Homo sapiens: one gene and its partners. The protein of the gene in region 1 purifies or fractionates together with the protein of each later gene. This does not show direct contact. Each region holds a gene or a part of one and is shown on either strand. Other genes may lie near its edges.

Region 1 (3,500 bases):
TCTTGAGCAAACTAAACAAATGCACCCCTGGGGTGCCACATCACCCACAGTATTTTTAATGGGTGGCTAAAGCAATCGTGGCTAAAGTAATGAAATCTTAACTGTCTTTCCCTTAACAGTGCATTACTAAAACATTTCATTCATCTTTTCCATTTCGACAAAACCCTGTGAATTTACCTTTTCACTTCATCTATAATAATTATCTCCAGTAAAACCACTAAAATTCAAGTGGATCCCCATGATTTCCATAAATTTAAATGTGTTCAGAATTAGACAAAAAGAGAGTGACGTGGGGGAATGAAGAACGTTAAAAGAACAAGAGGAGCTGAAAAACACGGGACGTGATGAGTGAAAGAAGCGCCAGGGCGAACGCGCGGTCCCCTGGCCCGGCACTGCTCGCCGCGTGGCTTACCCCTAGAGGCGGGAGCCCTTCCACGATGTTCTTCTTCCCAGAGAGAAGGTCCGACACCGGCCTTTTCTTCAGAGAGTCCCTCCGGGCTCGGTAGCGGCCTGACGTGGTGAGGTCGGACTCCGACATGGAGGGCATCAGCAGCCCGTCTCTCCAGGGCCGCTGGGCCTCTGCGGTCGTGCGGACGGGGCTGCTGTCCATCATCCTCTTCTCCGCGTCTGGGACGTGGGCCTTGGGCTCCAGGATGTGCAGGGGCCCGGCGAGCAGGACGCGAGGGCAGCCAGGTGGGTCCTGGGCCAGGCCGGGCCGAGGCTCGCGCGCACGTGCAGGAGGCGCCCGGGCCCCGCTCTCCTCCTCGAAGTCCTCGTCCTCCTCCTCCTCGCTGCTGTGGATTAGCATGGTGGCGTCCGACAGGGACTTCTTATGGCCGTACCTCAAGCCCTCCGCCTCCTCCGGCCCTTCTCGCTGTGTCCTCTCGGTGAAAACGCTGGGCTGGGAGCCCACCGAGACGGCTCGCGGCGCCACCTCTGCCGCCGACGCGGATAGGGTGCGCTCCTTGAGCCGCAGGCCCTCCAGGCCGTGGCTGAGCCCGGCCACCTCGATGCTGTTCCGTTTGTGCAGCTGCGCGTGGCGCGCGGCGGTGAGGGGCTCGCTGACCTCCTGCAGCGAGTGCGCCACGGGCAGGCTGTCCTCCTGGAACGTTTGCACCGAGTGGTGCACGCGCCGCGTGATGAGGTCGGGGTTGCTGCTGCTGATGTAAAGGTGGCGGGACAGGTCTGGCGTGCTGTTGGCGGGCCTGGGGGGCGGGTAGGGTGGGGGTGGCCGGTACACCTGCGTCCGCATGATGTTGGGAGACGGGTAGTCCTGCGCCTGCAGCTGCGCATTGGTCAGCTCCGGCACGCTGACCGCGCCCACCACGGGCCGCCGCTCGGCAGGGTAGGGGTAGGGAGACGGGCTGTGGAAGCTGTAGCTCAGGCTGAACGGGCAGTGTGCGGCCGCTGGCGAGGGGAGCTGTGCGTGCTCGCGGATCTCGGGCTGGCTGTAGACCAGCGCCGCGGGCCTGCTGTAGGCGTACGAGCTGCCGATGTTGAGGTTTCGCAGCGAGTGGCTCTGCCGTTCCGCATGCACCAGGCCCCTGTTGAGCTGCTTCATCACAGTCTCATAGTCTGGGGTGGGGCGGTAGGACGGGGGTATCACGGCGCTGTGCCGATGGGACGGGAGGTAGTCAGGCCTCATGACGTCACTCCCGGTGATGCTAGGGTTGGACGACATCGGCGAGGGCTGCAAGTAGGGCTGAGGATTATTTAAGGAGTTGGTGCTGTGTGCACTGTAGACACTGCCATTACGGATCCGACCGTTGAGGTCAATCTGGGCTCTATCCAAGCTTGTCTGAGAGTGACAGTAGTATCCGTTCTGGTTGGGCACAAAGAGGTTATCTAGAAAAAATGAGTTCAAAATGAGATTTTTTTAAATGGACTAATTACTCCAACCAAATACTGAGATCGGCCCTTACCTCTGATGACATTTTTAACACAGCTTGTAAAAATCCCCGCTAGAATGACCTAGCTTTAGCCACACTATCTGAGTGACCCTGGGAGCTTCGGCTTCCTCATCTATAGGATGGGCATGGCTCTGCCTACTTAAGGGGTGGCATTCATTGGGTGACAAAGTGAGACCCTGTCTTAAACGAACCACACCCACAGCAGACTAGCAGACTTTTTGGAACTCTGGGGAAGTTGAGGCAGAGATACCATTCAAGGCACTGGGCTGGGGACTCTGCCTTTCTTCCCTGGGTAGGGATGTGGCCTTGCTGCTGCTGAGCTAGTTCAAGCACCAACTGTCTGTAAGCATTTCCTTAACTGGAAATTTTTATTGTTCTTCCCAAATGAATATGAGAGCTTCGACTGTAAAAGGGTAATGGTATAGCAGGATCTGAACTTCTCTGGTCCAACAGTGTCACCAGCAGCCACACAGCCCATAAAGTGTCCAGAAGCCAAGAGGAGCCACATTAAACAGCTGCAGCTGCCCCCTGCCCTGGCCCCCATGTTTCAGGAAGATCCAGACCTGCAGCTAACAGAATCAGTTTAACCTAATCTTAAAATAGCTATGCATGTGTCCCTGCCCAGGGATGACAGGGGCCATGTTTCTTCTAGTCAATTTGTAGCTCACCTGCCCTCTGTTACTGAGGATGATTTCTAACCCTAGATGATTTCTAACACTCAGCAGCCAACTCCTTCAAATAACAATTTCCTCTGAAAGGCATTCTTTTTGTGCTTCGAAAGCTCCATGGTGATTTATGTGATCATGGTGATACTTAAGTAATACACCACAATCCAGTGGGTACACTTTATTCTGGTGGCACATGCAGCTGTGAGGAAATAGCACTCAAATCTCCATGGTATTCTTCTGCTGACACACAGCACTTCCATGTCACTGTGCTTTCCTCATTTATGCAAAGCTTGGTCATGGCTCCATCTCTGCAATCCCCCTTTCCTCACTGCTGCCACAGCTCGGGCCCCTACCCCAGCTTGTCTGAACTAGCTCTATATACACCTAGTCTCCCTGCTTCTGCACCCCACAAACCATCTAGCCATTTATGAGACTGTTATGTGGAAAAGGCAATACTAAGAATAGAAGGAGGAAAAGATGGTTGGAATACAGGCAAGAAAAGGGGAAAGGTATGCATGAAATCACCATAATTCAAGGAAGGGAGAAGAGATGAAGGGTTACAGGAGTCCAGAGGAAGAAATGCTCATTTCCAGCCTGAGTTGGGTTGATGGGGACAAGGAAGAGAGAACCAAGAACCACCTCACAAGATATGGCAGTTAAGGGGACTTGAGGGGTAAGTGGGTGGGGTGGGCGTGTCCAGCTTCCATCAGAAGTGAGGTCTCTCCACCTCTCAGAGCACGCAGGGTTACCCCTCCTCACCCCTTGATATCAGGCACAACAATGCGACTAGTAATGGTCAAGGGAAAGTGCACAGAGGGTTAAAAGCCAGCTTCCAGGCTCTCTTCCAACTGCAACACTGACCAACAACATTCCAGAGAGAAGAGCCTCTCCAGCTCAAGCCCCTACGGCAGACTCAGACAGG
Region 2 (3,500 bases), on another chromosome or scaffold:
ACCCATGTAGCACATGCAGAATTGGGGGTGAAACAAGAGCATTTACAAATGAAAGGCTGTGTGGACTCAGTGGAGGAAAAGGACAAGCTCTTTCTTTTCAGTTTTTGGGGTTACATTGATTTCATAAGTTCAACAACAAAAGTATGAATATGCTGGGTGTGGCAGCTCATGCCTGTAATCCTAGCACGTTGGGAGGCTGAGGCATGTGGATCACTTGAGGCCAGGAGTTCGAGACAAGCCTGGCCATCATGGTGAAACCCTGTCTACAAAATATAAAAATTAGCTGGGTGTGGTGGTGCACACCCGTAATCCCAGCTACTCAGGAGACTGAGGCATGAGAATTTGGGAGATGGAGGTTGCAATCAGCTGAGATTGTACCACTGCATTCCAGCCTGGGCAATGGAGTGAGACTCTGTCTCAAAAAATAAAATTAAAAACAAAAACAAAAACAAAAAACAAACACACAACCATGACTGCACCAAGTCTCTGTTTTAGAGCCTGACTTGTTTGCACAATGGTCCCTTGTTTGTATACTGCTTTTCAGCTGATCTTTAACAGTACTGGGGCTGGGTGCAGTGGCTCACACCTGTAATCCCAGCACTCTGGGAGGCTGAGGCGGGTGGATCACCTGAGGTCAGGAGTTCAAGACCAGCCTGGCCAACATGGTGAAACCCCGTCTCTATTAAAAATACAAAAAATTAGCCGGGCATTGTGGTGGGCGCCTGTAATCCCAGCTACTTAGGAGGCTGAGGCTGGAGAATTGCTTGAACCTGGGAGGCAGAAGTTGCAGTGAACTGAGATCGTGCCACTGCACTCCAGCCTGGGCAACAAGAGTGAAACTCCGTAAAAAAAAAACAAAAAAACAAAAACGTAAACCAAAAAACCAAAACCAAAACCAAAACCAAAACACAGTACTGTGAGATGGGTGAGCAGCTCTTGACCTCCCCATTTAATAGCTGAGTAAACTAAGGAGAGAGCTGCTAACCCAGGGCCAGAAAGTGACAGGCTGCAGAGCAAACGCAGCCACAGGCACTCTTCACTGTCTGCTTTTCTGCACTGACAGCAGGTAGAGCTGTTGCTGGATAGGGCCTCTATGGTCTGCAATGCTAAAAATACTCATGATCTGACTCTTTACAAAATAAGGTATTTTTCCAGCATCTTCAACACTTGACCCCTGGGCTCAACATTTAGCCTGAAGCCCCAGCAGCTAGGTAAGGACAGAACCAGTCCTTTAGTCCAAGTCCCCTGGGCCACTCAGCTTTCAATGGCCCTTCGGTCTCAGCTTATGGAAGCCCCCAGGCCTTCCGCTAGTGGGAAAACTGACCAACGTGGAAACACTATCAGGAGAATCTCAGCTACTGCATTTAATCGAGTCTAAGCAACACATTTTCTCACATTTTTATAAAAATTGAGACGAATCTTACGACCCATCGATGGAAGTGATAGACTTGAAACATAGCAAGAACCCCTAAAGATGTTGTTATTCCCCATAAGACACAGCAGGCTCTGAGCCGCAGCCCTGCAATGAGCACCCCAGGCAGTGTGGGGAGGAAGACTCACCCTGCGGTTGTGATTGTGGTCCACGGAGTGCAGGTGCCGCTGGAGGAGCTGCGGCTGTGCAGGAATTAGCATGTCGCAGGCCAGGCAGTGAGCAGCCTCGATCTTCTTGAAGAAGTGCTCCTGGCCAATCCCTGCCAGGAAACGCATGTCTTGTAGGATCTGGGACAGCAAGTGATGCTTTCCTCCTACTCCCCATCTGGGCCCACGTTTTCTCCCTGCAACTCTAAGGAATCAGAAGGGCACAGCCTGCCTTTCTATGGGGAGTATGGGTCAGCACATCGGCCTCTATAGCTGTGAATTCTGCACTTTTCAGCTTTTCTGTTCCTCCTGGTTGTTTCTTTTCAAACCAAGGAGGAAAAGATATGAAAGTGCTTAATGTCACTGATATAAGCTGCAATCTATGCAAGGCCACATCCGAAGGTTTCTTTCCATTGCTGCTGAGCGCTCTTCCCACGGGTCTCGTCATCACCTTCTCAGCCAACTTGGGCTGGCTTCATGCCACTTTTTTTTTTTTTTTTTTTGAGACAGAGTCTTGCTCTGTCGCCTAGGCTGGAGTGCAGTGGTGCAATCTTGGCTCACTGCAAGCTCTGACTCCCAGGTTGACACCATTCTCCTGCCTCAGCCTCCCAAGTAGCTGGGACTACAGGTGCCCGCCACCACGCCCGGCTAATTTTTTGTATTTTTTTAGTAGAGACGGGGTTTCACCGTGTCAGACAGGATGGCCTTGATCTCCTGACCTCATGATCCGCCTGCCTCAGCCTCCCAAAGTGCTGGGATTACAGGTGTGAGCCACCGTGCCCGGCCTCGTGCCACGTTTTACGGGTCCTGTCACATGCCTTACTACCATCCAGGAAAGCACTCATCCTGGGATGACAACTCACCTTTGAAAGGATCTGGTTTTGGTTTTGCGGTTTCTTTCTCCATCAATTCCTGACGCCGCTTCTCAATTTTCTTATTTCTGTTTACAATGTATTCCTAGGTGGGATTGGAGAGGGCATAAAGTAAAATGAGAGGTGGGCGCATGTGGGCATTTCTCAACTGCCAGGGCTAGGCAGGCAGCTATCAGAGCAGCTGCGTGGGGCAGCACAGCACGATGGCTGGAGCTCCCGGTTGTCCCTGTGACTCAGGGACTTACACAGCTACTCTATCTGGGAAAGGAAACCTTGGCCAAGTATAGCCTCTGATTTCCCTTCCTCCTTCAAGGGATCCGGCACCTGCGGGATGGGCAAGAGACGCGGTGACGGGGCCCAGGTTTCCTTTACCTGGAGGAACTCCACGGTCTTGTCGGGCAGCTTGGTGCTTATGAACCGCAGGGTCTCTTTGTGAAATTTGCTTTGCAGATGCTTCTGGATCTCTTCGTCATCAAAGCTACGGAACTTGCATACAGAACAGGCAAACTGAATTCTGTAGAAGGAAAACAAGGAGGGGAGTGAAGCAGGGAGCATCAGCGAGTGAAGCAGGGGGCATCAGCTCACCTCTGAGGAGAGCTGAAATAGAAACAGGATTTTCAGCTCTCCCCCTCCCCCTCTCCCTCTCCCCACGGTCTCCCTCTGATGCCGAGCCGAAGCTGGACGGTACTGCTGCCATCTCGGCTCACTGCAACCTCCCTGCCTGATTCTCCTGCCTCAGCCTGCCTACTGCCTGCGATTGCAGGCGCGCGCCGCCACGCCTGACTGGTTTTCGTATTTTTTTGGTGGAGACGGGGTTTCGCTGTGTTGGCCGGGCTGGTCTCCAGCTCCTAACCGCGAGTGATCCGCCAGCCTCGGCCTCCCGAGGTGCCGGGATTGCAGACGGAGTCTCGTTCACTCAGTGCTCAATGGTGCCCAGGCTGGAGTGCAGTGGCGTGATCTCGGCTCGCTACAACCTCCACCTCCCAGCCGCCTGCCTTGGCCTCCCAAAGTGCCGAGATTGCAGCCTCTGCCCGGCCGCCACCCCGTCTG
Region 3 (3,500 bases), on another chromosome or scaffold:
GAATTCCCATCTAGAATGCCACCATCCACCCTGCCACTTCTCTGCAATAAACTCTGACTTAAACTTCACAGCCCAATTCAAACACTATCTCTGCTGGAAGTTTTCTCTAGTTGCCCAGGATTTACTTAATCGTTGTGTCTTTTTGCTCAAAAAGCACTTTTACTTACCTAAAGGATTGCACTTACTCTGTATGGTCCTTATGTTTACATATCTGCTTTTCCCTGCCCTCACATTAGAATATACTAAATCAGCAACTCCCAGTCTAGGGGCAATGATTCTTTTAGTGGGCCAGAATCACCAATTCTTTCATTAGGCATAACTAGAACTCTGTCCTTTTCATGGTTATTTCCCTGGTACAGTGCTAGGTACACAGTAAGTCCACAATAGGTTAAAGGGGGCCAAGAAACAGTCTGAGGAAATTAAGGTAGCTATGACAAAAATAATAATGGCAAAGGAATAAAGAGAGTGACACTGCAAAGCGAACCATCTTGGCTGCTACTTCTTCAGCTCCCACCAGTGGGACTGGTTTCTTCATAGTTTGCCATCCAGAGGCCTGATCCTGATATTTATCTAAAAGCCTTAGCCCTGGTTCCAGTGCTATGCTCCGCATGAAAACAGATTTCCTCTGAAAGTTAAATATGTCCTACTTCAATGCCACAAATTACATGATGACACTGACTGTGAGACCTATAATTTCAGAGATAGAAGAGGAAAAAATACGTACATACACACACTCATAAGTATATTACATACCGATATATGCATGTTATATATATGTGTGTGTGCATGCATAGCTTATATGTATATGTTTTAATGTATATCTTAGAACCAACTGAAGAAAATATGAAATATACTATCAGATTTGAAGAGAGGATTTTGATTTCTGTCTGCTTTCCCTATGTTACCAGCAACAAAAGAAAGAAATAAAAATGAACATTTGAGAACTTTAAAGTGTTGTCGGAAATCTGACACAAAGGCCCAAGGAGGAAGTACCTTGGTGTGGAGCCCAAATGGTGCCAGTGGAAGGGTAAATAAGCAGATCAGTAATCCTCAGAAATGTGAGAAAATGACTACGGGACCGTTCATTCATAAATTTAAATTGAGCAAGTATGTATGTGTCAGGCACCACAGTGGGGACTAACAATATTACTGTGAATAAAATCAGATAGCATCCTTGCCCTTAAGAAACATACTGTCTTGTGGTTCAGGCAGAGATGATTAAACAATCATAAATATAAATATATCATTGCAAACTGAGGTAGGTGACACAAAGGAAAGGAATGGGATTTAGGAGCATATGTAGAAAAAAATAAAACCTAGCCTAGACTGGGGGAAAGCAGGCAACACAACCCTTAGGCAGCAGTCTTTGAATTGATAACTGGAAATAATGGGGGAAAGGAAATGGAGTGCTGTTTCCTAAGGGAACAGCATATGAGATGGAAAAGAAAAAAAAAAAAGAGAAATTCGCCCCTTCCAGGAACTGAGAAAATGCTACTCTGGAAGCATAGTGATGGAGAGGCAGAGAAGGACAGGGCAGAAGCCACACTATATGGAACCTTGCAGGCAACCAAATATTAGTAAGATATGTAGGTTGGGAGGGAAATAGGTATGGTGCATAAGAACAAACGATGCTACTGAAAGGGCTGATTCAAAACTGATGACAGTTTAAGCTCCAGTGATAAGAATAAAGATCAAGAAGACTGATGGGTTCAAGAGATATTTCGAGAGTAAAAAAGTCAATGGTATGTGTTAATGAATTGAACAGTGTTATGGGAGTTGAAATAGGAAGCTGTTAAATTTTCTGACTTTGTGTAGCTAGAAGCTGTCATTCACCAAGACTAGGTAAACTGGAAGAGACTCTGTTTGGGAAGAGTTGAGCAGAATATGGTGTGATGTAAATGTCATGAGTTCTGCTTCAGAAATGCTGAGTTTGAGATACCTTTAAGAGGTCCAAGTAAAAATGTTGATCAGGGAACTGAATATGGGTATGAAGCTTAAAGGAGTGTCTTGGCCAGAAAAAGGGTCTAGGATTGACCCCAGATAGATATGGGACTAGCTGACACAGTGAAAGGGCCTTGGAGCTCTCTTATTTCCTTAACTTTAGCAATTAATACAGTAGTTCTCAATTTATAGGGTGCCTCTAGCTCTTAGAGCTGAGGGAATCTTGGTTCTGCTTGAACTGAAAAGATGTATTCATAATATCCCATATTTGAACTCTGGATATGTTTTTCAAAGAAACATACTATTTTGCTTCTACTAAACCAGTATTTTATTCTCATATTTTCCAGGAGGAAAACTTTTGGGGTGGGTGGTGGCAAACCATGAATAATTAAAGAAAATTTCTTCTGCGTTCCAATAACTCCCTTACAGTTTGGAAGATTTGAAAATATAAATGAAATATAATCTAGCTATAAGCTTGAGATAGCCTATACTGTTAATTATGAAACATTATAATGTTAAAACAAAATTACAGAAAGTTAAAGCATTCATATGCATTTAAAAAATATTAACAGTTACTCAGTTCAGCAACTTCATTAAGATAACCTTATGAGTTTGTGTTTCCTATTCCACAGATTCTACTATGTAGAAATTTTGTGCAGACTAGAAATTTATTAACATGTTAAAACAGTATTTAGAATATAGTAAATGTATTAATACATTGTTGTAAAATAAAGTTATATCAATTTTGTATTTGAAGAATATGCATATGCATAGAGCTCTCCATCTTGAGAAAATATTTAAAAATAATGTAAGCACTAGAAAATTACTTCTATAAATTTTTTTATTTTTTAGAAATGCTCTGTTGCCCAGGCTGGAGTGTAGTGATGCAATCATAGCTCACTGCAACCTGGAACTCCTGGGCCCAAGGGATCCTCCTGCCTGGGCCTCCAAAAGTGCTGGAATTAGAGGCATGAGCCATCACCCCTGGTCCTCTTCTCCTACACCTTTTTCTATCTTGCCTGTTTTCCTTGGTCAGATATGACCAGGTAGGAAGAACATTAATAGCTCTGTGCTGCCCTCTAGTGCTAAGTAGAGAATATAGTCAATGAGAAAATTTTGCCTTTTAATACTTCAGTAAAATTCTAACAAGAAAAAGTAGATATCATAAGAATAATTTCTTAATCTGCTATCACTGACAGAAGATAAAGAGTCATTCAGCACCACCGCTATCAACTTATTACTCTAACTCCAAATAGTTTTCATCGTAACAAACAAGCACAAATTGATGCTTGTCTTAAAAGCAAATTCTTAGGTCAGGCGTGGTGGCTCATGCCTGTACCCCCAGCACTTTGGGAGGCTGAGGCGGATGGATCGCCTGAGGTTGGGAGTTCGAGACTAGCCTGGCCAACATGGTGAAACTCTGTCTCTACTAAAAATACAAAAATTAGTTAGGTGTGTTGGCACGCACCTGTAATCCCAGCTACTAGGGAAGCTGAGAGGTGGGAGAATCGCTTGAACCTGGGAGGTGGAGGTTGCAGTGAGCCGAGATTGTGCCACTG
Region 4 (3,500 bases), on another chromosome or scaffold:
GAATGGATAAGGTCATCAGGGTGAGGCCCCCATGATGGAACTGTTGGCTGTTCAAGAAGAGAAAGAAGGACTGAGTTGACATGCTCTTACTCCCTATCCATGTGATGCCCTGCACTGCCTCAGGGCTTGCAGAGTCCTTGCCAGCAAGAATGCCCTCAGCAGATGCAGCCCCTTGACCTTAGACTTCCCAGCCTCCAAAACTGCAAAAAATAAATGTATTTTCTTTATAAATTACCTAGCTTCGGGTATTCAGTTAAAGCAATAGAAAATGGACTAAGACAGTAAATGAAGGTCACAATGAGCTTCTTCCCTGATTATCGTCACAACTGATGGTGAGCGAGCAGTTTAAAAGGAAACTCACCCCTGTCTCTCCCACATCTAAAAATCCTCATGGGCTCTCCTGTGGGAATAACTTTAAAATCCACAGTAGGGCAAACCAGGGCATGGGCCATCTATATGTTTATCTGTCTGGTCTCTTCTTGCACTCTAAAACTTTATGCAACTTAATTTTCAACTATCATTCTATTTCCCCAAAATACCAAGAACTGTCACACTGCTCCTTCTTCCCAGACCTTCATTCTTTGTTGAAGACACCCAGAAATCCTCAGAACTTAGATGATCTCATCTTGTGCCTCCCAGTGCCTCTTATCACTTTCATCACTGCATTCAACACTGCAAGTAATCCTTTCTTTGTTTTATCTGTTCCTTTCTTCTGTAAGGTCCTTGAGGGCCTGCATGGAGGCTTAATGAGAACTGGTGTTCAGAAAAATATCTCCAAAATCTCTGATCTCTCTAACATCAACAATTAAATGCTATAAATGAAAGCTATAATTAAAAACCTCATTATAATTTTATAAAAGTTAACGCATTTTGTACAGCAAAAAGTGAAGTATAATTTAACATTTATGTTATCATTTTAGTATACTTTTTATAATATTGATAAAGATTGCAACAGCAAGGCCTTCAGATTCACACAGACCCTCACACATATGTTACTCATATTCCACGAGCACTGAAATAAACCACTATTGGTATTGCAATGGGAACTTATGTTTTCCATTTCAAAATATCTGCTTGTTAATACTTTGGCACAAAATAAAGGCTCTGCAAAACACACACATTTTCCATCTTGCAGGAGATTCTCTACAGAAAAGATCTGTTATTCAAGACAGTACGTGATAAACAGTCACACAGAATCAATCTCTCTATGGGAAATATTTAAAATTCAAGAGCTCTGAGCAAAAAATTCAATATGAAACGGTGCACAGTTGACTGCTACTCTGGCTGCTGAAGTATATTAACTCATGATCAGTTAGTTAACTTTTCCTTTAATTTCTTATTATCCATTTATTGATATTCACTGATCATGCTTCTAAGAACAGCTTTCATTAACATAATCTACAGCATAAAAAGTGAGATCCTTATTTTATAATCAGTGGTTTTAACAAGCTACAGACTTCAAGTGCAATACAATGGCAAAGCAATTACAATCAATTAATTTCCATCTGACAACTGCTATCTCTAGTGGTTACCGCCCCATTCTACCAACTGATTTCTCCATCATGTTATCATCTATCAGCACATTACAGAGGATCAGAGACCCAAGTCAATGGCTCTGCAAAAGTCTGGGGTGGGAAAGCTCAGATATCAGGCTTAACATGTACTGAGGCTTTCCATTTCCATAGCTTAAAGAATCTCCAAATTAATTTAAAATGCACATGCTTAACCTTCACAATGACTTTACTGAATTCAAAGAAAACAACATTATTATAACTTTTTAATGACAATATAATAAACAATAATAAAATATTGGGTATGATCATTCTCTAAGTAAATAACTGCAATTATCAATACATTTGAAACCTTAGAATATACCTATGCATTTTACTATATATTATCTACATAGTATTACCCACCTGAAATCACAGAGGCATTGGCTAAGGTAAGTGTAATTCATCATGAGGTGAAATTTTATTCTTGAAAGTCATCATGCAAAATATGTGTATGGAAATATAGGCAAATTCTGGACCCTTAATAAACTCACGAGGTTGCTACGCTAACTCTAAGACCACCTACTTAGATTTTTCTTGACTAAATAATAAGCATACTGTGTCCAAGTCACTCTTACTGAGGTTTTCTATCACTTACAACCAAACAAAGCCTACTAAAGAGATGCTAATAATTTTGGATGATATCCTCCTACATTTGTACATCTGATTAAAGTTCATGTATGTATTCATACATCTATTTGTTTAATTTTCAACATACAAGATACACTACAAAACACATAAAATAGAACATAAATAAGAATGAGCCAAAAATAAAATGTAAGGTGCAATTCTTTATTTTCTTTCTGTGCCCTAAGGTGGCACAGTGTGCTCTAATGTATCCAGCTGAGTGTTTTATTCTGAAGAAGAAACACGGAACATTTGTGAGAATGAGAACATGGATAAGATCTAATGCCAAACTATAAAAGTTATGATCCTAAACAACCTTGGTGTATCTTAGTAATCAAAAACTCTCATCTGTGAGCAAATTCAACACTTTTGGAAGCTTGTTTATATTTTTTAAAGCTATGCCACTTTTAAGACAGTCCAATACACTAAGCTGGCTATGCTATATGGTACTATTTTGGCATGTACTTAATCAAACTTCTGTTTCTAGGAATGTAATTTGGTAAATAATTTGTTATAGAGCTATTGCCTTCAAAACAATTATATGGATGAAGGTTCCTGTAAGTAAACAGGAGGGGCCTTATGTTCCCGTGAATACCAATTTGTATTTCAAGGCTTTCTTTAAGTTCCCTTATTTCAGAGTGGGCCCTGCTATCAGACATCATTCTCTCCACATCCATCAGCTTCTGAAGCTCCCATCTGACTGTCTGACTGGACCATGAGCTTGCTTCCACTGAGCAGAGCAGGTCTTCACATCTTTAATCCTTGGGCTTATGGATGGCATGACACAGAGGCACGGAATAGGAATTTACAGAAGGGAGAAATTTTGGCCCAGCGCGGTGGCTCACATCCATAATCATAGCAATTTGGGAGGCCAAGATGGGTGGATCACCTGAGATCAGGAGTTGGAGACCAGCCTGGCCAACATGGTGAAACCCTGTCTCTACTAAAAATACAAAAAATTAGCCAGGCATGGTGGCAGGCACCTGTATTCACAGTTACTTGGAAGGCTGAGGCAGGAGAATCACTTGAACCCATGAGGTGGAGGTTGCAGCGGGCTGAGATTGCGCCATTGCACTCTAGCCTGGGTAACAAGAGCGAAACTCTGTCAAAAAAAAAAAAAAGGACAACTTTTTTATACAGCATTTTTCTAATTGTTTGTGTTAAAAAGTGGTATCACAGGCCAGGCACTCTGGCTCACACCTGTATCTCAGAACTACAGGAGCCAAGGTGGGAGGATCACTTGAACCCAGGAGTCTGTGACCAGCCTCGACAACATAGGGAGACCCCCATCTATACAAATAATAATAATAATAAATTATTTGG
Region 5 (4,012 bases), on another chromosome or scaffold:
CGGTGACTCACAGTAGGCCTGGGTACACCCACGGGCACACGCTGGCACACGTAGGGCACACACAGGTCTCAACAGGCCCAGAGGTACCCAGTCAGGCGGGGGCGCCACCCAGAGTCCTGCATACACCTTGATGCACCCACACCCCCCTGCCCAGCACACAGCACCTACCAATGAAGCTGATGGCCTCAGGGAAGAACTGGGAGAGGTTCTGGCTCCAGTGGTCAGAGATGGGGATCTGCTTGTAGGTGAACTCGCCGCCGTGCTCGAAGGCGTTGGGTAGGTTGGGTGTGACATTGAGGATATACTTGATGCCATACTTGCCGAGCACGTCCAGGTTGGTGGAGTCCTTGGCGCAGCCGAGGTAGAGGTAGGGCAGGATCTGGACAGGGAAGGCTGGTTGGCTGGATGGCACAGGGCTGCCGTCTGACTCGGTGGCACTGCTGGGCAGCTCTCGGTCCGACTCGCCGTCGGAGCAGTCAGAGCTGATGCGCAGGCCCCCCAGGCCCAGCACTGAGGTGGGTGGCGAGCTGCTCGGCGAGGAAGAGCTGTCCACGTTGGTCTCGCAGTGCTCAGAGTACTCTGTTTGAAACTTGTTGAAACCACCTGTGTCCAGGGTGAGACAGGGCCTGGGTGAGAGGCTGGTGAGAGCCCAGATGGGCTGCACAAGACCAGAGATGGCCAGGACTCTGCACGCCAAACACCACAGCACCCACGGTCAGCATGGGCCATGCCAAGCATGTTACACGTGTGCCCTCTCTCGTGTTCTCTCCATCTAAACCATGACCACTTCACAGATAAGGAAACTGAGGCCCCAGAAGGTGAAGTGACGTGCCTGGACTCCAAACTGGTACCCATAACACTTCGGGGCCCCCAGCCATGGCACCAGCTTTAGGGCACTTGAGGACAGGCCCCAGCTAATTCCTCTTCTGCAGCTCCCACGCACACCTAGCACCCATGGGTGTTCAGTAACAGCTAAGTGGTAAAGAAAAGCAGACAACCCCATCTTAGCCAGCACCTCTGGGTTGGCAAACTCCTCTTATAGATGAGACCACAGGTGCCAGAGCCACATCTGGCTCAGTTAGAGGCAGAGAGGTCCTGGGCTTCCTGAACGGGAGTCTAGTGGTTGCCCAGCCCCGAAACTACAGCTGGGGAGGGTAGTGGGAAGGTACTGGCTGGCCCCTTCCCCCAGCAGGGGCAGGTTTTTGAAGGGGGTCCTGGCTCCACTTCTCTAGAACCCTCCCTTAGAACACAAGCCCCACCCCCAGCCTTGGACCTGCAGCGGGGGAGGGCCACTGGGGCGATACAGGGACAGGAGAAATGGGGAGCCCCTTGCAGCGAGGCATGGGCCCTGCGCCCGAGGGTGCCGCAGGCCTCCCCTCCCCTCCCGCCCGCCCCGCTGCCAGCAAGAGGCCATTTTGGAATGTTAATTGGAAACACCGGCCTCAGCCACTCGCCCCCCGGTGCTACCTCTCCCTTCTGCAAGCTCCGGGGCAGCAGGCTAGGGACCTGGGGGTCCCGAGAGACCCGGGCCAGGGCAATGGAGCCTGCCCATACCCTGCCCCAAGCGCCTCCTAGAGGCGGCAATTCTCCGGTGGAAGAAGCAATTCCCGGATCCAGGAGACCCCAACCCAAATGGTCTCCATGCGCTGGAGGTGAGGATGGTGCTATGAAAGGTGCCCTTCCTGATCCTGGCCTTCCAGAAACACGAATTCTAGGCTGGACTTGGGCGCCCTGCCGCTTTTAGGGTTCTGGGAGGCGGCGCCTTCCACCTCTGAGGGGCTCCACTGGAGCCCAGGCACTACTGTCGCCCCATCAACAGGAAAAAAAAGGAAACCCCAGGCAGGGGAAAGTTTGTTCCACCCACTCGAATCGTGCCGAGAAAGGGGGCGCAGAGGGAGCCCCGCGCCTGCCAAACCACACAGTGGGGACCCGGCTCCAGGAGGGCGGATGCGGGCCGGGGACGACGTGGCGCCCAGAGGGGCAGGCCGAGCGCGTGGAGAGGAAAGCGCCTCCAAGGGGGGCGTCAGGGAGTCGCGGGGGGGCCCCGATCCCGTAAGGCGTCTCGGTGCCGCCCTCACCTTGGAGGTAGTAGGCCTGGCAGCCGTCGTCGCGCAGCTTCTGTAGGAGCAGGCCGAGCACGGAGGCGGGAGCGCCGGGCTCGGGCTGCCACTCGGCCGTGGCCTCGTCGTAGAGCAGCACGGTGGCCGCCTTGCAGCGCGTGGCGAAGCGCTCCTTGTCGGCGTGGTTGGGGATGATGGAGCGGATGGGCAGGTTGCCCTTGCGCAGGCGGCGCAACATGAGGCCCGGGATGGCCAGGTTGATGGCCGTCTCGATGTGCGACGACTCGAAGAGCTCGTGCGGCCGGCAGTCGAGCAGCAGCAAGGACGCGCCGCCGCGCGCCTCCAGCTCCTCCTGCAGCCACTCGGCGCTCTTGCAGGGCATGGCCCCTGCCCCCGTCGCCGCGCCCGCCCCGGTGCCTGCGCCGGACCCCGACCCCGCACCGGGCTCGGACCCCGCCCGGGTGCCCCCAGCCGCCGCCGCCCCCGAAGTCGACATGTGCGCCCGCGCTGGGGGGCCGCGGAGCTGGTTTTTCATGGGGAGCGCGGGCGGCCCGGGGCCGGGGCCGGGCAGCCCTGCCCTGGGACGGCGCCCCGGCCGCGCGGGCCCCAGCCGCGTCTCCGGGCGCCCGCCTCCCGCCGAGCTGCGCGCCCGCCGCCCCGGCCTCCCGGCCTCCCGGCCTCCGTCCCGCCCGCCCGCCCGGCCCTCCGCGCGCACCGCGGCCTGACAGCCCCAATTAAACGGCGGCTCCGGCGGCCGCGCGCCGAGGCGTTCTCCGGGGGGCGGGGCCGCGGGGGCCGGCGCCCGGGCTTAAAGGCGCAGCGCCTCCACCGCCCCTCCCCACGGGGTATGCGGGCGCGCTCGCGACCCGAGCCCGGGAGACCAGCGGCGGGGCCCTCCCCCACCGCCTCCGCACCGTTGCCCCCTGGACTAGCTCGGAGCTGACTACGATCCGCCTAGGGACCCCGGCCTAGACGCCCTCATGGGTTCACTCTGCGCGTGCTCCCAAGCTCTTCTGGACACTGCGGGAAGAGAGGCCCTGGGGGCGTCCTATGCCTGGCACCCCCACCCCACATTCACAACAGCATAGTTTTCCTGGGACGGGGCGTGGTGGGGGGGATGGTCAAGCTGAGCAACCTCTCCTCCTCCCGCCTGTCATCCCATTCATTTTTTCTGTCATCGAGTTCATTCAACAAATGAGAACTGAACGCCTACTACGTGCCAGGCACTGTGCTAGGCGGTCACCGTTTCAGAGGACCTCATCGTTCCCCTGACGGTCACAGGCTCCAGACCTGAGGGAGAGCGTCTCACGCCAGCAGGCCTGATGGGAAATCAGGACCTGGGCAACTGGCGGGGTAGGAAGACTCAGGGCCGTGCCACCTTCCGTGGGCAGGTGTGGAGAAATCCTAGAAAGGACCAGCTTTGGGAAGGGATCGCGAGCCCTTTAAGAAAGCTTTACAAGCGGGGTGGTGACAGGCGCCCAGTGAAGCGCCACGTGACTTTTTCCACGGGGCCGGTGGGAGGGGAATGCTCCTTTATAATCAGCTTTCCTTCCCCTGCCTCCCTCTCAACGGACCAATCAACTTCCGCGGTAGGCGGGCGCCTGCCATGCAGATGGCCAATCCTGGCCGAAAGAGGCGGTGGCGGAGGGAGGCGGGGCCCGCCGCGGTTTCCACCCAGGGCGGGGAAGTGGGCGGGGCCTCCGCCCGCCCTGTGTGTCGATTTGCAGGCAGGCGGGGCAGCGGAGGTGAATGGACCCGCAGGTAGCGCTAGAACAAAGCGGCTAGACGCAGGCGGCGCGCTTGCGTAGGACCTGCAGTGCTTTCCCTACGGAGCCAGGGTGGCAGCTTGAGGCTGGACCCTGCCGTCTATCTGGTCCATTCTTTTGCCTGGCGGGGTGCCCCTCCTTGGGGCTTAACCCCCCGACTCCGCCCGAGGCTGGTCGGCTCTGAGA
Region 6 (3,500 bases), on another chromosome or scaffold:
GACGAAAGCAGCCACTATTCATAGAGCCCTCACTCCCTTACCCTAGTGTGTAGGTGGCCCAGCTCAGGAAGTTTTCATATTCCATTTTTCTGGACACACTGATTGGCTCAAGAATGGGCAACTGACTCAGGCTCATTCAGTGAGAGTCAGCCCTGAGATGTTTGCTGGAACTATTGGAAAGATAGGTTCTTCCTGCGGTGATTGCCAAGCTGATAGGATATGAGCCTAATGCAGCCTGGGGCACTACCATGAGGGAATAGCTTGCCTGAGGATGAAGGCAGCACAGAGGAAAACAAGGCTGCTAGGTGGGAGAGAGGAGAATGAAGAGGATATTGTTTGAGCACCTGGGTCCAGCTATTCCCGAAGTCAATAGCATCTAGACTTTTTAGTTATAGGAGCTAATACAATTCCTTTTGTGCATATGAGTTGAGTTTCTGTCCAGAGATTCCTGACTAAGAAAGTCACAGGGTTAGAATTGGACCCACAAAGCTCCTGGCTCTTGGTTCAGAGCTCCCTGTCCCCTGTCCCTGCTAAGTGATGAGAGTGGTGGAAATGTTTAACAAAGCAAGAGGGCGAACAGGAAAAGTAGACAGAAGGGTCCCCCTGGTTGCTGCCAATATCGCAGACAACTGAACTCACGATGCCCAGGGTGAACAAAGGGCGGAGGGCTTCACTGGAGGGAAACACTTCCAGCACGATCAGTTGGGCCACCTTGGCATGGCCTTGGTCTATAAAAAACTCGGGAGTGTCCTGAGTTAGGATCTTCACGATCTGGGTAGATCCCAGCTTATCTGCAGCCTGGAAGGAGATCAGACCCACATGTGGCCTCCCAAGTGCCCACCATGGCCCACAGGCTCTGTGTGTGGCCTGGCCCCTGCCTGCCTTCCTGGGCTCCCTGCTCCCTCACGTGTTCCAGCCACCCTGTCCTTCTTGCAGATCCTTGAATGTTGTGTTGTTCTCCCTACCTGGCAGCCTTTGGTCTCCTGTTCCCTCTGTCTGGAATGCCCTTCCCTTCAGGGAGGCCTCCCTGACGTCCCAGACTGTATCAGGGGCCCAGAGTGTTCTCATGGCCCCTAGAACCTGTCCTGTGTTACTGCAGCTGTAATGGAAATACTATCCATGTGATGATTTGCTTCAGGTCAAACTGGCCTGCTAGACTGAAATCTCTGTGCGGACAGGGATGCGGTTTGAGTGTCCCAGTGCTGGAATGAAACACTAGTCCCACTAGATTCTCCTCCCCAGAGGCCTGTGTCCAGACCACAGCAAACACCCCTCAAGCTGCAGATGGCAAACAGACCAACCTTTTCATTGATCAGCCCGATGCTTGACTTCAGCCGATGGGCACTCTCAGGAAGCTGAGGGTGAGAGGAGCCAGAGAAGGTCAGTTGGAGGGCACAGGGAGGCACATCTCCTGCACCCCACTGCTGGGAGGAAGGTTTCCCAGGACCCCAGAAAAGCTGGGTGGGCCCAGTGACCCAAGCCATGTGTCTGTCATTGGTGGAAAAACAGCCCCTAGGTCAGCTTCTATGGGGCATGGGGTCCTGCTGGCCTGGACTTTTACTGTGGGCTGGTGATGGTTGTGGGTCTGGGGGCAGCTTCCTGATCTCAGAGGACATAGAGAGGTGATTTCATTTTTACTGCAATCATGAATGGGCTAGTTGGTGACCACTCCCTATTTTCTCGCCATCCCAGTCCCCTGAGAGCTTGGTTATTGGTTGTCTGTCAGCTGCCCTGAAGTTCTGCCATCCTCCCATAACGTTGGACCAACCCTTTCCCCCTCTGGACCTCAATTTCCCCGTCAGTCACCCGGGAGGAGGTGGCACAACATAGTTGACTGGTGGTGGTTATCGGCTGTGCCCTGTTAATAAGGATTCCAAGGTTGTGTCAGCATCCAGACTCAGTAGAAAGGAGAGCCTTGATCGATTAGTGATGTCTGCCATGAGTGTCATAGTGGTGAGCAGTGGCACAGTCGCCATCCCTGGACTACTCACTATCTGAGATGTATTTATCACCCCTGGACTACTGCATATCTAAGATGCCTTTTGATTTCACGAGACTGTTATTTGGTAGAGGAAACATTTGCATCAGATTCCAGAGGGTAGAACCATGACTGGGGCTGGATGTTACCGGGAGGATTTTAGGTTTAGAGCTATGTCAGAGGCAGGGTCTATTAGAGGAGGGAGTGAGATCTCCATTAAACTGAGCCTGATGGAGGATTCCTGCTTAGGGGCACCCTGTGTTCAGGAAATTCCTATGATGTGGCCTGGGCGGCCCTATTCTCTGCCTTGTGCTGAGGTTTACCACAGAGTCCAACAGGACCATGAATTCTTCTGGAGAGAGCACAGCAGCCACTGCAGCTTTCACCACGTCCTGACTCACGATGAGGCTGAACGGGATGTTGTCCAGGGTGGGCATTGTCAGGGAAGCTGCAGAGTTATTGAACCACTTGGTCACCTTTCCCTGTGAGTCCAACAACTTGGCCTGAGGAGACAGAGCAGGGAGTCAGCTAAGAATTTTAACTCTGCAGCTTACCCAATAGCAACCTAGAAGGAAATGACACCATTCAGCCTGTTTCCTTTTTGTGCATTTGTTGCCAGGAAGCTTAGCCTGGAGCTCAGGTGTGTGGCAACATCTACTCCATCTTTGCCCCTCGGATAATCTCTGACTTTTATTTTTTGTACCAGATATCTTCGTTTTTTTTCCCATGCTTCAACTTCTCAGACACCTCAAACCCTTTGGATGGAGGGAAAATTAAAAACTACAACAAAATGGAAGAAACGATTTGATGCTGCAGTTTTCCAAAGGATCCATAGAAACTAGTCCAGGGGCCAGGCGTGTTGGCTCATGCTTGTAATCTTAGCACTTTGGGAGGCCGAAGTGGGAGGATCATTTGAGCCCAGGAGTTTGAGACCAGCCTGGGCAACATGGCGGAACCCCATCTTTACAAAAAATACAGAAAATTAGCCAGGCGTGGTGGCGAGTGCCTGCAGTCCCAGCTACTCAGGAGGTTGAGGTGAGAGGATCGCTTGAGCCCAGGAGGTCAAGGCTGCAGTGAGCTGTGATGGCACCACTGCACTCCAGCCTGGGTGACAGAGTGAGACTCAGTCTCAAAAAAACAAAACAAAAGAAACCTAGTCTGGGATTCATGCTACCAGGATGGTCTGGCCCTTTGGGGCGTCCAGCCACAGCATGGCTGTGCAGCTCCACATTGGACAGGGAGCTGACAGTTACTGGGCACTTCTGGTCTGCCAGGCATGGTGTGGTCTCATTTCATCCTCTCCTCAGTGGCCATTATTACTGACATTTTGCAGACAAGGAAACTGAGGCTCAGGGAGGTAAAGGAACTTGCCCAAAGTCACATAGCCAGGGAATCATAGAGCTAGGAGAGAAACTTAGGTCTGTGTTTCTTGATCCTTGGCTTTTGTTTCAAGGTTGTCATAGGTTTGGGGATTGGCAGGGACTTGCCTGAGAGAAAGGCTGAGGGCCCAGTGTCCCCACTC
Region 7 (3,500 bases), on another chromosome or scaffold:
CCCAGGGAACTGCCCTTCTGAATCACATCGGAACCTGAAACAAGAGGCATTTCCCACCTTTACTGTGAACCAGCTGATGTAACCCCATCAGATCTTTTTTTAAAAAATCACATAAACCTAAGAGAATAGCAGCAACCCACCCCTTTCTCTCTCCTGTGCCTATTTCAGCTGCTCCGATCTAGTTTTTTTTTTTTTTTTTTTTTTTTTTGAGACGGAGTCTGCTCTGTCACCCAGGCTTGAGTGCAGTGGCGCGCAGCTCACTGCAGCCTCCACCTCCTGGGTTCAAGCAATTCTCTGCCTTAGCCTCCCGAGTAGCTGGGATTACAGGCGCCCACCACCACGCCCAGTTAATTTTTATATTTTTAGTAGAGACGCGGTTTCACCATCTTGGCCAGGCTGGTCTTGAACTCCTGATCTCATAATCCACCCGCCTTGGCCTCCCAAAGTGCTGGGATTACAGGTGTGAGCCACTGCGCCAAGCCTGAGCTAGTTAATTTTAAGTGGAAATAGTATGAGAAGTGAGAATATTCAAAGATGTTAATAAGACCCATGAAGAATCCAGGAGTACTGGAACAGAAAACAATCATATTTAATAGCAGTGGCCATTTATTGAAACCTGTAAAGCCACAGGACCTTACAAACATAATCTTGCCTACCTACTTACTGAAAAGTATTACCACCCCTATTTTACAGAGGGGAGGGCTGATATTTGAATCCAGTTCTTTCTGATTCCAAAACCCACATTCTTTCCTCTTTCTTACAGTTTCTCAATGGTGCTTTTGGCATTCTGGGGATGACCATTCTTCAATGTGTAGTCTATACATTACAGAATGGTTTAGCATCCCTGGTTCCCACTCACTGAATGCCAGCAGCAACCCTCAACCAAGACCACCATCACTGTGAAACCAGAAAATAACCATATAGTTCCAAATGATTCCTAGGGCAACAAGCAGTCCAGTCCCCAGTTGAAAATCATTGCTTCGAGGTTGCAGTGAGCAAAGATTGCGCCACTGCACTCCAGCCTAGGCAACAAGAGCGAAACCCCATCTCAGAAAAAAAAAAAAAAAAAAAGAAAATCACTGCTTCACTGAACCAGGGTACCCTCAATAGGTGAATCCTATTGAGATCAAGGTGAGTTTTGAAAGTCAATCTGAAGAGCCTAGGGCTTTATCTTGAGAGCAACGTGAAGATATCACTAAAACTGCTGAGAAGGTTAAGACAAAAAGACTGATGAGATTTATTTGATTTAAAATATGCTGTTTGGGGGGAGGTAGGTAGGAAGTGTTCAATAAATACTTGATTCACTAACATTCTAGCAAAGACTTAAATTTATTTTCTAAAAACCACTATAATTTTCCTAAGGTGTATCTGGTGATCCATGTAAACAAATAAACAAACAAACAAAAAAACTAATGGCAGCTACTTATCCTCCATTTAACTTAAAGTGTGAAAGCCGATTTCAGAAAATACGGTTCTACAGACTCGCTGATCTAGTGGGAGGCAAATGATTGCTCCCACTAAATGATTACGCCCAAAGTAATTTGGACACAAATTACTTTATTCCTTTCTTCCAAGTTTAGTGCTTCTCTCATCTTTTTAATCTATTTTCTTCTACTTTTGCTCATTTTTTGCTACCCTTACTTTGGCTTTCTACTGAAGGCAACCTGACTTTCCCCAAATACTTCTTCTATTCTTTGGATCACAGTGACTGCCTGATTTGAAAGAATCTTTATACACTCAGTAATCTGTAATTGTTATAGAAGACACAGGCAACAATCCGAGTTTCTGAGCGGCATGAGATTAGCCAATGCTACTATACTAAGTTGGTGTAATTCTAGCCCAAAGCAAAGAAATCCCACCTTCTGGTGAGTCTACACAGCTTTTTCTCTCTAGTCAGTGTAAAATTTGCCAGGCCTTTTGAAACAGTTAAGATTGAGGGCCTCTATTACCATCTTCCTGACTTCCTACTGGAAACCGCTTCCCTGTTACTACTACTAATCTTCCACTCTTCATCGCTACCATTTTTCCATCCACCTACTCCATACCCTAATTCCAAAGAGTTATTTGTTAAAAATATATTTTGGTATATTTATAGAGGTTTACACTTATTTCAAAATTGAAGTTTAAATGCTGAAGTTGGCCGGGTGCAGTGGCTCATGCCTGTAATCCTAGCACTTTGGGAGGCGGGGGTGGGCAGATTACCTGAGCTCAGGAGTTGGAGACCAGCCTGGGCATATGGCGAAACCCGTCTCTACTAAAAATACAAAAAAATTAGCCAGGTGTGGTGGTGCATGCCTGTAATCCCAGCTACTTGGGAGGCTGAGGCACAAGAATCACTTAAACCCAGGAGACAGAAGTTGCAGTGAGCTGAGATTGTGCCACTGCACTCCAGCCTGGGCCACAGAACAAGACTCCGTCTCCAAAAAAAAAAAAGAAAAGCTGAAATTTTTTGTGTTATAGTGCATGTCCTATCAGTAGCATCCTTATCAATTATTAAGACCATTATTAATCTGAATGAGATACTATTGAAGAGAGAAAAAAGCCATAGGAAAGGCATTGTTCCAAAAACTTGCATTATATACATAATTGTCATAGAAACTGTACAAACCTAAGAGAATGTGCAGCACATAGCAGATGTTTAAAAAATATTTCCTGAGGCCGGGTGCAGTGGCTCACGCCTGTAATCCCAGCACTTTGCGAGGCCCAGGCGGGCAGATCACAAGGTCAGGAGATTGAGACCATCCTGGCTAACATGGTGAAACCCCGTCTCTATTAAAAAATGCAAAAAAATTAGCTGGGCATGGTGGCGGGCACCTGTAGTCCCAGCTACTTGGGAGGCTGAGGCAGGAGAATGGCATGAACCCGGGAAGCGGAGCTTGTAGTGAGCCGAGATCACGCCACTGCACTCTAGCCTGGGTGACAGAGCGAGACTCCATTTCAAAAAAAAAAAAAAAATTCTGCTGAATGAATCTTGAATTGATTCAACCAAAGCTTATAATGGTGCCTACTCTATGCAAGGCAGCATGCCTAAGAGAATACACCAAACATTTACCAAATATCTACGCTGAGTAAGGCACTGTGAGATTTTAAAGTTAAATAAAACATACCCTGAGTTGAATTAAACGTGCCCTCTTCTTTACCAATACCCCAGAATTCAACAAGTCATTTTTCTAAAATATTACTTATTTGAAATATATATTATCTACTTAATATGCCTGCACAGTGCATACATATATTTATGTGTTTAATATACAGTCAGCTCTCCATATCCATGGTTTCTTTTTTTTCCCCTTTTTTTTTTTGAGACACAGTCTCACTCTGTTGCCCAGGCTGGAGTGCAGTGGCGTCATCTCAGCTCACCTCAACCTCTGCTTCCCGTGTTCAAGTGATTCTCCTGCCTCAGCCTCCCAAGTAGCTGGGATTATTATAGGCACATGCCACTGCACCCGGCTAATTTTTGTATTTTTAGTAGACATGGAGTTTTACCATGTTGGCCAGGC

The links.
Region 2: the proteins of PTPN21 (region 1) and AKAP8 purify together in Homo sapiens (affinity purification with mass spectrometry, with the first as the bait; one large-scale study listed by BioGRID). This does not show direct contact.
Region 3: the proteins of PTPN21 (region 1) and STXBP4 purify together in Homo sapiens (affinity purification with mass spectrometry, with the first as the bait; one large-scale study listed by BioGRID). This does not show direct contact.
Region 4: the proteins of PTPN21 (region 1) and NRG3 purify together in Homo sapiens (affinity purification with western blotting, with the first as the bait; one study listed by BioGRID). This does not show direct contact.
Region 5: the proteins of PTPN21 (region 1) and DUSP7 purify together in Homo sapiens (affinity purification with mass spectrometry, with the first as the bait; one large-scale study listed by BioGRID). This does not show direct contact.
Region 6: the proteins of PTPN21 (region 1) and BPIFB1 purify together in Homo sapiens (affinity purification with mass spectrometry, with the first as the bait; one large-scale study listed by BioGRID). This does not show direct contact.
Region 7: the proteins of PTPN21 (region 1) and CEP85 purify together in Homo sapiens (affinity purification with mass spectrometry, with the first as the bait; one large-scale study listed by BioGRID). This does not show direct contact.

Annotation. Positions count from the first base shown.
Region 1 is NC_000014.9:88,478,508-88,482,007, forward strand, and holds part of PTPN21 (tyrosine-protein phosphatase non-receptor type 21), read right to left. Parts: intron 1,846-3,500; coding exon 413-1,845; intron 1-412.
Region 2 is NC_000019.10:15,359,288-15,362,787, forward strand, and holds part of AKAP8 (A-kinase anchor protein 8), read right to left. Parts: intron 2,965-3,500; coding exon 2,823-2,964; exon of another isoform or gene 2,764-2,822; intron 2,536-2,763; coding exon 2,442-2,535; intron 1,692-2,441; coding exon 1,561-1,691; intron 1-1,560. UniProt on the Homo sapiens protein: Anchoring protein that mediates the subcellular compartmentation of cAMP-dependent protein kinase (PKA type II).
Region 3 is NC_000017.11:54,992,765-54,996,264, reverse strand, and holds part of STXBP4 (syntaxin-binding protein 4), read right to left. Parts: intron 1-3,500. UniProt on the Homo sapiens protein: Plays a role in the translocation of transport vesicles from the cytoplasm to the plasma membrane. Inhibits the translocation of SLC2A4 from intracellular vesicles to the plasma membrane by STX4A binding and preventing the interaction between STX4A and VAMP2.
Region 4 is NC_000010.11:82,354,194-82,357,693, reverse strand, and holds part of NRG3 (pro-neuregulin-3, membrane-bound isoform), read right to left. Parts: intron 1-3,500. UniProt on the Homo sapiens protein: Direct ligand for the ERBB4 tyrosine kinase receptor. Binding results in ligand-stimulated tyrosine phosphorylation and activation of the receptor. Does not bind to the EGF receptor, ERBB2 or ERBB3 receptors. May be a survival factor for oligodendrocytes.
Region 5 is NC_000003.12:52,053,772-52,057,783, forward strand, and holds the start of DUSP7 (dual specificity protein phosphatase 7), read right to left. Parts: upstream 2,801-4,012; 5' UTR 2,596-2,800; coding exon 2,079-2,595; intron 604-2,078; coding exon 169-603; intron 1-168. UniProt on the Homo sapiens protein: Dual specificity protein phosphatase. Shows high activity towards MAPK1/ERK2. Also has lower activity towards MAPK14 and MAPK8. In arrested oocytes, plays a role in meiotic resumption.
Region 6 is NC_000020.11:33,300,214-33,303,713, reverse strand, and holds part of BPIFB1 (BPI fold-containing family B member 1 precursor), read right to left. Parts: intron 2,482-3,500; coding exon 2,302-2,481; intron 1,356-2,301; coding exon 1,302-1,355; intron 799-1,301; coding exon 640-798; intron 1-639. UniProt on the Homo sapiens protein: May play a role in innate immunity in mouth, nose and lungs. Binds bacterial lipopolysaccharide (LPS) and modulates the cellular responses to LPS.
Region 7 is NC_000001.11:26,240,700-26,244,199, reverse strand, and holds part of CEP85 (centrosomal protein of 85 kDa), read right to left. Parts: intron 35-3,500; coding exon 1-34. UniProt on the Homo sapiens protein: Acts as a regulator of centriole duplication through a direct interaction with STIL, a key factor involved in the early steps of centriole formation.